2 separate regions of the Homo sapiens genome follow, and region 2 is linked to region 1. The links come from fine-mapping of genetic effects on gene expression. A gene starts in region 1. The other region holds a variant in brackets. All regions are shown on one strand. Distances are from middle to middle.

The links. PIP is the estimated chance that this variant, and not a neighbour inherited with it, causes the effect. A credible set is the group of variants that fine-mapping cannot tell apart.
Region 2: its variant is the best candidate, but not a certain one, in a credible set for the expression of LPIN1 in whole blood (INTERVAL, PIP 0.70).

What each region holds. Positions count from the first base shown.
Region 1 is chr2:11,743,446-11,748,819 of GRCh38, forward strand. LPIN1 (lipin 1) reads left to right here and starts at 3,187. Exons shown (of 21, transcript NM_001349206.2): 1 at 3,187-3,226. LOC124907735 (a long non-coding RNA gene) reads right to left here and starts at 2,014. Exons shown (of 2, transcript XR_007086220.1): 1 at 383-2,014. RefSeq lists enhancers at 1,354-1,927, 4,439-5,110 and a silencer at 2,866-3,435.
Region 2 is chr2:11,707,424-11,712,797 of GRCh38, forward strand. It overlaps a transcript of LPIN1 not described here. Among named protein-coding and RNA genes, the nearest start is that of LPIN1, 37 kb to the right of the region's middle. The variant G/C (reference allele first, on the strand shown) is at 2,588.

The sequences.
Region 1 (5,374 bases):
CCATTCCACCTTGGGTGGATTCCCAGGCTGCTCTGTTCCCTGCCACCAAGGTAGTGAAGCGGCACCAGGTGGCCCCTGGTTCCCACCTGGTTCTTAAGAGAGTGCGCAGGACAAAGTCACCTCGTGAGGGGCCCCCAACCAAGGAGTGGCCTTAGACCCCGAGGAGATGCCCTCCCTTCCCCGGAGCCCCAGGCACTGGTGCCAGGGATAAAAGTCTGCACCTCTAGGGGAAGAATTCATTGTCCTCTCTTTGGGATCCTTTCTGCCCGGGCAGTTACAGAGCTAACCATGCTCAGAGTCCTGGGGGATCAGCCAGTGTTTCTCCTTCCTACAGTAGCTCGCAGGGCACCCGTGAAGAGGGATGCTCATTCTTCCCGCCTACCTTGCCCCAGGTATTCTGGGCCTGTGTAGGTGGTTGATCTGGACAACTTCAGAGTTCTCGGGATACAACAGCTACTGTCACCAGCTGGGCTCAGCAGTGAACAGATCCTTCTGGGAATGGCCACTCCTCAACTTATGGGGTTTTAGAATTGAAAAATCTTCCAACCCCACAACTGTGACAGCAGCTTCCCATGATGCCTTTTTCATCCTCAAAGCAGATCTGTGTCATGTGCACCTGCAGCCCATTTCCTGGATTGTGAAACTGAGCCTCTAGAATCAGGATGCTTGTGCTGGCTTTGCTAAGGCATTACTCAGCCCCTCCTTCCTCCTCCAGTCAGCTAGAGCAAGATTACTCATCCCTGGAGTTCCTTCTCCTCTTCCGAGTGCAGCTAGGTCCTGGGATTGGCCAGGGGGATCGCCTCAGCTCTCCTGGCTGAGTCACTGCTCAGTCAGGCCTGGTTGCTGATAGCACAGCCAAGGGCCCTCCCAGGGGGACTCCAGCCAGTGCCTGATCAAAAGCGCCAGGGCTTTGGAAAGTCCGGTTTCGTTTATCGCCTGGGAGTGCACTGTGATCTAGTGAGTGTTTTCTTCTCATTGCTTGTTTATACAAAAGGCTCCCCCCAACCCTTGGCCTTCCCCGAGGTGGTAGGCTGGGCAGCAGCGGGACCTAATTTGCTCTGAATCCAGCCAGACCCTGCTCATCAGAGCTGACCCTAGCCGTGCTGGGCCCCCCAGCTCATCATTTTCAGAATGAGGGCTTTGAGTTGAATTGTCCTATATTTTCAGACCTCCCATCTCCACATTTGAATAATGGACTTATTTTACACAAAAAATAAACTTAAGTGGCCTGAAGTTGGACTGGCTTCCTGGAAAGCCTTTCCACATAGAGTAGACTTCTTCCCAGGCCAGCTCCTCCCTGGAGGTGGGAGGGGAGGGTGCAGGAGGGCTTCCTTCTGGGGCCTTGCAACCTCAGCAGTTTTGGGCAGCCGTGATGCACTTGAAACTCTGGTCTCTGAGAAAACCCCTGTGGAGGTAGCTCACCTACAAACTGCAAGATTCTCTTTGTGTAGCTCCCACGTCTGCAATGTCAGCATGGGACAGGCTGCCTAGATAGGAGCTGCCCCAAGCCCAGCGGGAGCGTGTCCACACTTGACCAGATGGACGGGAGCCGCGCCCCTGGACAAAGCTCTCCAAGCAGCTGTCCCCAAACATCTATCTCAAGCTTGCTGGCTTATCCAATTCACTAAGCTGCCGCATTCGATGCTGTTTCTAAGCTGGCCTCCTCCCTGGCCCTCTGCATCTCAGCAGAGCAGCGGTTCCATCTCCACACTGAGACTTGCCTTTGAGTATCGCATCACACACCTCCACCGGTTCCATTCATCAGTAAGCCTGTGGGTTTTGCCTCCAAATCTCTCTGAAGTCCTTCCGCTTCTTGCTGAGTAGCCCCTGTAATCTGAGCCACCATCATGTCCCCCGGTTTCCTGCAGTGCCACCTGTCTGCTGGCTTCTACTCCTGCAGTCCATTTTCCATGGAGTGGAGGGGTGACTTTTTAAAGAAGTAAATTAGATCATATAATTCCCAGGTTTAAAATTCTTTTTGGACCAGGCGTGGTGGTTCACACCTGTAATCTCAGCACTTTGGGAAGCCAAGGTGGGAAGACTGCTTGAGCCCAGCAGTTTGAGACCAGCCTGGGCAACATAGGGAGACCTGGTCTCTACAAATAGTTTGAAAAATTAGCTGGGCGTGGTGGCATGCACCTGTGGTCCCAGCTACTTGAGAGGCTGAGGCAGGAGGATTGCCTGAGGCCAGAAGGTGAAGGCTGCAGTGAACCGAGATTGTGCCACTGCACTGTAGCTTGGGTGACAGAGTGGGACCCTGTCTCAAAAAGAATTGGTTTGGAATAACATTTAAATAATACCTAAACTCCTTGCCTTGGCCTACAAGACCTGAATATTTGGCCCCTGCCTTCCCTCCAGCCCACAGCACCGGCCCCAGGACCTTTGCACCTGCCATTTCTGCTCTCCAGAAAGCCCTGCCTCCTCCCCATCTTTGTAGTCATAGGTGTTTCTTGTCATTTAGAGTTTCAGTTCAAATATGACACCCTCCCATTGATGGAAATCATTTCACCACCAGACGTTATGTGGCTCATTGTTTATCCGCTGCCTGCCTCCCGGCTGGAGAGGCGCAGGGAGCTGCCTGTCCCTCCTGTTCAGAGCCACCGTTCCGCACCTGGACCACCGCTTGGCAGAGGCGGGAGTGGAGGCTGTCACCATCAGGATGAAGGACAGGGGTGGCCCGGCGTGGAGAAGCTAAGAAGAGATGGCGATAGGTCAACGCGATTGCGCCTTTAAGGTGGAAGAAACGAAGGGCGAGGGTCAGTAAAGTCAAGGACGGGCTCAGATCCCGCCACTGGTGATAAGCGGGACCCATAGGACCGACGTGATCGCGGCCAGGCCCTGGGTGGTTTACCTGGACTTTTACCTGGCTGCCTTTTCTCTGCACCCCTCCGTCCTCACTCCCCCAGTCATCGGCATAGGTCAAGTCAGAGTGTTGAAGAAACACACGAGTTTGGCTCTGGAAAGGAAAATCAGAAAGGCGGCCTAAGGGGCCCCACCCCCAGGAACGCTAAGATAGGCGGCCAGGGGTGAGCGGGCAGGGCCGGCCAGCAGGCCCTGAAAGCAGCCGGGCCACCAGCGCGTCCCGAGTCCCCCTCGCACCGCCCCGCTTGCCCCGCCCCTGCCCTCTGCCCCCGCCCCTGCCCCGCCCCCGAAGGCGAGCTGCGCTGACAGCCGGCGGCGGGCTGGGTGTTTGCAATACAAAGGCGGCCACGCGCGGCGCCGCTCGGTGAGTAGCCGCCGCCTCCAGCCTCCCGCTGTGGAGCAGGGGCCGCAGCCTCGGGTTAGGCGGGGCGGGGCGCGGCGCCGGGGCGCTGAGGACGCGTGGCGAGGCGGGGGCTCGGCCCCGGGGCCCGAGGACCGACGGCCGGGCTACGTCCCCGGGGCCCTCTACGGGAAGTGGTTCGGGGGAGGGAGGCGGGGAAACAGGCCCCGGAGGCCGGGAGGGCCTCGCGAGCATCCCTCGGGCCTGGCTTTCCTGACGCGCCGCGAGGCCCGGTGTGGGCCCGGCTTGGCTGATCTCGAGCGGCGTAGGGGCCACTGGGGGCTGCCGCGCAGTCCCAGAACCGCGGGGACTAGCTCCAGCCGGCCAGCGCGGGTGCGTCCTGGCTCTGCGCGATCATCCCCAGCTTTGCGCCGGGGACTGGGATGAGAGCCTTTCTTTCCCCCGGAGTTAGGATTCCAGCGCTGCAGTTGAGGAAACTGAGGCTCAGGGAGGTTGACCTCTGTGCCCAAGGTCATACAGTTGCCGGGCGGCAGGGCAGGCTGAGCCCAGGTTGGAATCCCGGTTCTCATATTACAGCTCTCCCCTGCGAGGCCTCTGCACCTTTCTTGCAGCCTAGGAGGTGCTAGGCCTAGTGAGCTCCGTCAGCTGCTCCTGCACGTAATTTTATTATGGGCAAGGCCAGGAAAATGCAGGATGAGAAGTAACGTTTTGGGAGTAACTTAAGTGCTGTGGAGCTAGAGTAGGTAATTTGTGTGGTCAGTAGTTGCTGGAGAAAGCAGATGTCAACCCTGTTTTTGATCAGCAAGCAGGAAACCAACTAAGACAACTGGCAGTATTAATTTGGAGATGTTTTAGAACCCGGCAGTTTCCCACAGGATAGAAGTGTTTTGGGAAATCAAAGCTTGTAGCCGTTTTTTTAATTGGGGGTGTTGTGGTATGGTGGTCTAGGGGTAGTGATTGTGAGATTGACTGTTTATCCTTTGTTCCGTAATTTGGGTCTTATTAATGAAAGTAAGCAGTTGAGGAATGTATAGTATTTGAGAAATAAGCACATCCACACATGAACACTTTTCTTGCTCCCAGATTCTTGTTGAAAGGTGTAACAGTTGGATTTATGATTATATACTTTGATAGCACTTCACGTTTGCCAGCATTTGTTATTGAGTGTTTTTGTGCATGGGTTGTGTGTTTTGGCGCTTATTATTCCTATTTGCATGTGGGGCCCTGTGGTCCTGTGGAGCCAGGCCTGGATATAGCCCTGGACTCGGGTCGGGAGGTCTGGGCTCTGCCTGAGCTCTGTGGGACCCTGAGCGAGTTCTTTCACCCACCCAGGTCTCGCTTATCAGCAGTTCCTTTCTTTTAGAAAAGCACAGGGGGACAAGGGGCGGACCTGCTGAGTCTTGTGGTGTGGGAGAGAACGCGAGGGTTCAGGTGAGAGACCGCAGGGATTCCTGGTTGTAGGGGGGACCTTGGAAGTGACTGAGAAGGAGCCTGCCCTGGATTAGGTGGGGACAATTGGCCTGGCCCAGCCAGAAGGAAGTCTGTGGGTCCTGCTCTCCTGCTCTTTGCGTGGTCAGCTGCACAAAGGGCCCAGAACAGACGGCAGGGGAGGGTCAGGAGATGAAAAGATATTTCAGAAGAAGGTCCTGAGGCCACCGTGGTCTGAGATGCGCCGAGGCCGGCACAGAGCACTGGGCTTTGCAGTTGTTGTTCTGACCACTCACAGATGTAGAACTTGGGCAGAAGACTTCAATCCTCTGAGCCTCAGTTTTCCCATCTGTAAAATGAAGGGATAATCATACCCATTCACAGGATTGTTGCAAAAATTAATTGAGATAAAAAAGAGCCCCTGGAACATAATATGGGGTCCACGAATCATTGTGGTTGTTATGATTTTAAAGTGCCACAGGGTGCCAGCGAGGAGGGGCTCTTTGTGGGGTTGGGACAGTCCTGGCTGACGCCGGCCTCTGCTCTGTAAATCATCCCTGTGGGACACCCCCTCCCCCTGCCTGCCACCTCTCTTCCGGTTGGCTTTTCCGGACCATCTGTGTACTGGGTTCAAGGCCTAAAAGGTACCTAAATGAGGTTAATTGATTTGGGCAAGCCTGCCAATGGGGGTAGTCGAGGGGTACAGGCAGCTTTTTCCTTAGG
Region 2 (5,374 bases), 36 kb before region 1:
GGCCAGACCCCCTGAGGCCACTGTAGGGCCCTGGAATTTACTGAGCAGACCGGGGAGCACGGGAAGTTTTGAGCTGAGGAGTGGTGTGATCTAACATTCCAGAAGGTTCCTGTGGCTGCTGTGAGGAGCAGAGCTGATGAGGAGCAGAAACAGACTGGCTGTGGAGCCATTGCTGGAGCTGCGGGAGAGAGCAGCGTGGCTGGGACTGGGTGGTGGTGCACGCACGGGGAGAAGTGCTCGGGGTCCCCCACTGGAGGTGGAGCTGCAGGATTTGCTTGTGACTGGATGTGGCTTGGGAGGGGAGAAAGGGAGTGGCTGGGGCCTGTCCCAACCAAGCGCTGCTGCTTCTGTGAGCACCACAGGTGCTCACCTGCCTGCTGGGATGGACCTTACCATTGAGCCAGGCATGATTACTTCCTTCAAATGACTCTTCTGATGTGTTTCAATGATGAGTGAGTGGTCTCCGCTAATTATGACTGGGTAGGCCCCTTAGAGAAGCCTGGCTGGACTTCAGGAGTTTCATGTGAGAAAATCCTGGGGAAGTGAACTGAACTGGGCTTCACTGAGAAAGATCCTGAGTGATGATCACAGTTTCACATCAGATCCGCATCCGAGACCAGCTGTGTCAGGCAGTGGGGCAGCAACCTTCACCTAGACCCTTGGAGGTCATCTCTCCTAACTAACAGGACAGAGAAGGAAACTAGGCCCTAAGAGGAGCAGTGATCTGCCTTCAGCCACCCAGGGAATGGGCATTACCCTTCACTGTTGGCCCCCCGACAGCTGGAATCCAGCAGCTTGACTCTCATCAATTTCACTTTTTGCCTACTGCACTGTGGCCTTCTCTTTGGAATGCTGAGTCAGCACAGAGGAGGGTGATTATTTGCCAAGGGGGGGACTCTGAGAAGGCCCCATGGAGAGCTGGGTTTTGAGTCATGGAAATGACTCCAAGGACAGATTTGGGTGGAGGGTCAACCTTCGACTGGGAGGAAGCAGGGGAGCCTAGTCACTGAGATGGGAACCCTGTACATGTCCCGGGAGTGGAGAGTGAGGCATGGGAGAGGAGCTGAGGCAAGGGGGCAGGCAGGAGTGGATCATGCAGGGCCATGCATGCCAGACCTGGGCCTTAACTCCTGGGCAATGGGGAGCCATGAAAGGTTTTCAGTGGGGAATGATGTGGTGTGATGTGCTCAATGGAGCAGGAGGCACAGGAGATGGAGACCAGCTGTGTTGCACTTGGCCAGTTAGGTACCCTTGCTTTGGTATAATCCAGGCATTTGATACGTAAGAAAGCTGACCCAAAGAGGGGGAAAAACTTGCCAAAGTCACCCAGCAAGCCAGGGTTAGAGTTAGAACCCAGTTTATCCACCTCTCAATGGGAGGAAGGGAAGGTGATGATGATGATGTTGGTGATGATGATGACAATGATGATGATAACGAATATATATTGAGCACTTGACATTAAGTATCTTCTTTAATCCTCACAAGGGCCCTATGACAAAGCTACTACTATTATTATTGTTATTATTGTTCCCCTTTTATAGAGGGGAAATGGAGGCTCAGGAATATTAAATGAATTGCTCAAGACCACACAGATGGTAAGTGGTGAAGCCAGCATTCTACCCTAGATCATTCTACACAGTTTGACTCCAAAACCCATGCTGGGGACCACAAGTGGTTATCTCATCAGATTTGCCAGAACTGTCCCAGGAGGAGTCCTCTTACATAAAACATCATCCCTTTCACCCCATCTCCCCCCTACTCAGAGCAAACCTTCCTTTATCCTCTTCCTTTATCTCAACAGAGGGTACCAGGCTACCAAAGAAAGGGGGTATCATTGTTGGAATCATGGTGTAGGAGGGTGTATGCATGTAGATGCAGAATTTTGGAGATGAAAACCCTTAGAAACCACTGAGTGTAACTCGAGCCTCCGTTAGATGGAAAAACTGAGACCCAGAGAAGGGCGGTACCTTGTCGATGCCTTGCAACAAGTTAGCGACACCAGCGCTAAAGCCTGGATTGCCTGATCCCCAGGCCAGGGTTCTCCTCTCACATTTTGGACAGTTCCCACACATTCCTGGAATCCTCCATTGGACTGTGAATGGGTTTTCCCATGAAAGCAGACTGTATAAACCAACCATAATGCTTTTAGGTCCCGAGTTATATGCTGCCATTGTTTCTTCAGTAATGCTATAGTTTTCTCTGCCTCTCTTGTCCTGGAAAAGCTGACTTTGGTAGTACCGTTTCTATATGAAAATGTTACCCTGCTTTTACAAAAATCTACAAATGAACGTTGGACAACCCATTTGTAAACTGGGAGCAGCCCACGACTTTGAGCCTGATAATCTGGAAACATTACTCTCTGAATTCTCTCTTTTCCTTCTGTGTTTGTGAGATTTCTGCTGTTTAAATGTTGCACCATCAATGAAACAGCAGCAAGAGCTTTGGAGTCCCACAGACCTGAATGTGAATTTGGACGTAGGCTCCAGATATGTGACTTCCAGCAAATCATGGCAAGAACGGTAGCAGTGAGCCCAGCTACATGAAGATTACAAGGAACTGTGACCTGGGTCTTAATCTTAATGAGGCT[G/C]TGATGGGAATTCAATTTCAGCTTCATTGAGTATCTGCCGTGAGCTGGTCACTTTCAAGTACATTTTCCATCTGACTCTCATAGCAGAACTTACATAGCAGAGTGAGATTATCTTTCTCCTACCCTTATAAGGGTAGTAATCCAATTTCTGAAGGCTCCATCTTCATCACCTAATCAGCCCCCACCTTCTGCAAGACCACACCTCCAAATACCATCACCTTAGGGATTACAACTTCAATATATGCATTTATGGTGGCAGGGGTGTGGGTGGGGACACAAATATTTAATCCATAGCGTCACATAAGTCTATGTTAAATGAGAAAGAAAAGGAAGAAAGAAATCAAGACAAACAATAGAGTTGAGAAGGAGGTTAACACAAGCATGTGTTTCATGGAGTCTGACTCACACCGAGAACAGGAATGTGGCTCTGGCAGCCAATGCACTGAACAAGGACCTGAACAGTCATACAGCTCAAGGTTCAAGCAAGGTAGAAGCAAACCAGCTGCTCTGAAGATGCTCACCTACTTCTGACCTTGAATCTTCCACTTCATGACCTTCATCCAGGAGTAGCCACTGACATCTGTATGGTACGTTACTGTTTTCACAGTATTCTGTCTTTTGATTCTCACATCAGTTCTATGAGGTAAGTATTTTATTGTTAGCCTTTCTTTAGAAATGAGAATATTGAGGCTTAGAAAGGTAATTTCTTGCCAAAGGCCACACAGCTCCTAGTAGAAGAACTGGAATTCAAAGCCAGGTTCATTTTTGGCTTCCACCGTGACTGCCAACTGCTTGATGCCAGAATCCAAATGGCTGAGCTTCACACTTTATGTTGGAATTTTGAATTACAACAAATAGTTGTGGGCAGAATGAGCCTATTTTCTACTTAGCTGTGAAAGAAATTATTGTTGAAATATACTGGGTCACCATTTTTGGTGTTCTTGTGTTTATATTTAATCTCTGAATTCAAACCAGACTCTTGGGGGTCAGAGATATTGCTCCTCTGGCAGTCCAAGAATATATCTTGTATTTGATTTAAAACTTCATTTTGAATCAGGGCCAAATCCAAACACTGTGAATTTAAACTGCTGGCAGCCTTCCTAGCCTACCTCGTGAGTGCAAAATCAATCCAACTATTGTACACAGAGAATTCTGGTGCCCGTGTGACTGTGTTGGTGGCCCCTGAAGAATTTGGGTTGGATGGTCCAGAATATCTGTACCCAAGTTGCATGACTTTTTGCAGCATGCTGAAATATTCCACAGGAGCTGAAATAGAAGCAGCAACTGGATTCCAAGAAGTGTTTCAAATGCATTGCTCAGTTGAAATGAGGACTTCATTAGCTGCCATATTAAGCAACGTATAGATGAAGAAATCAATGGCCTTACCCCTGCTACCCCAGCAAGGATCCAGATTGGATACAATCCTATAACACACATCTGCCTTCTTTCCCTGGTTCTGTCTTAAAGGAAAATCTATCCTTTTTATTTTGGGTGTGGTTCCAAGAGACTAGAATATTCCTCCCTAAATTCATCCCTCTTGCTTTCCTAATTTAGTGAATGATATAATCATCTACCTAGTCACCCAGACTAGAAACTTCAGGCATCCTTGAAAATTCCCTGTACTTCAACCCCCCAATCCAAGTTGCATATCATTTCCTGGTGATTCCATCATGTGGTTGTGTTCAGAGCTCATCTTCCTCTTTGTCCCACTGTCATCACCTTGGTCCATATCCCAGCGATCCTTTGCTAGAATAACCTTCAAATTCACTTCTCTGCCTCGAATCCATCCTCCATGCGGAGGTCAGTGTGGTCCTTGTAAGACACAGATTTGATCATCCCTCTCCTCCTCTGTAATCCCCAGTGGTGCACAGTGACTGCTCTCACACTGCTCTGAGAGCCTCAGGTTTTCTGTAGCCAAGACTCCAGTCCCCTTCCCCATTTGACCATAGCCATTTCCCTTTTTTCTAATTACATAATGTGCTCCAGCAAGAGTTGTTGTTTGAGGAGGGCATTCTTAAAAAAATGAAACTGGCCGGCTTAGAGCACAAGGCCAGAGGTCCTCCTGGGAGCACGCGAGGCCTTCGCCATGCCGGCCTCACTCACCCCTGCCTCCTTGCCCCCTGATCCCCCCGGCATCCCCTTATGCCCACTGCATGTGCTCAACTACTCTGGAATCATGAGGGGCACCGTGCTGTTCCCAACATATGTGCGATGACTTTGTTATTTTGAATATGCTCTCTGCTCTGCCTGGAGCGGCCTTTCTTGTCCTCTCCTCTCCCAGAGTTCCCACTCACCCTGCAGAGGCAGTTCAACTGTCCCCTCCTGCAGAAGGCACGAACCTTCCCTACATTCCCCACAGGCAGATGCTTGGCTGCCTCCTCTGTGCTCTCTCTGGACCCTGGGCATATCTTGATGGTAGCCCTGGCCACAGAGATCTTTGTTACTTGTCTTCCTGCCCTCCACTAGCTTATGAGTGACTTACGGACAAGATTTGCATCTCATTTGTTGCTGTGTTCCCAGTACCTAGCGAAGTACATGACCCCTAGAGCTATTCTATGTCATGATGTAAAGCAACACCATTAACTAACAGTCAGTCAACAAATATGTGCTGGAAAAGCTAAGTGGGTCAGATGAATATGAGGTGGGGTGCAGGGCCAAGGAGGAACAGGACAGGGGAAGAGGTTTAGGGGCTTCTGGGGCTGTTTATTCTGGGCTGCTGGCAGTTGAACTCAGAGCACACATGTTTTTGAGTATAATTTTAGTAGAATTTTAGGCCTAGGACAATAC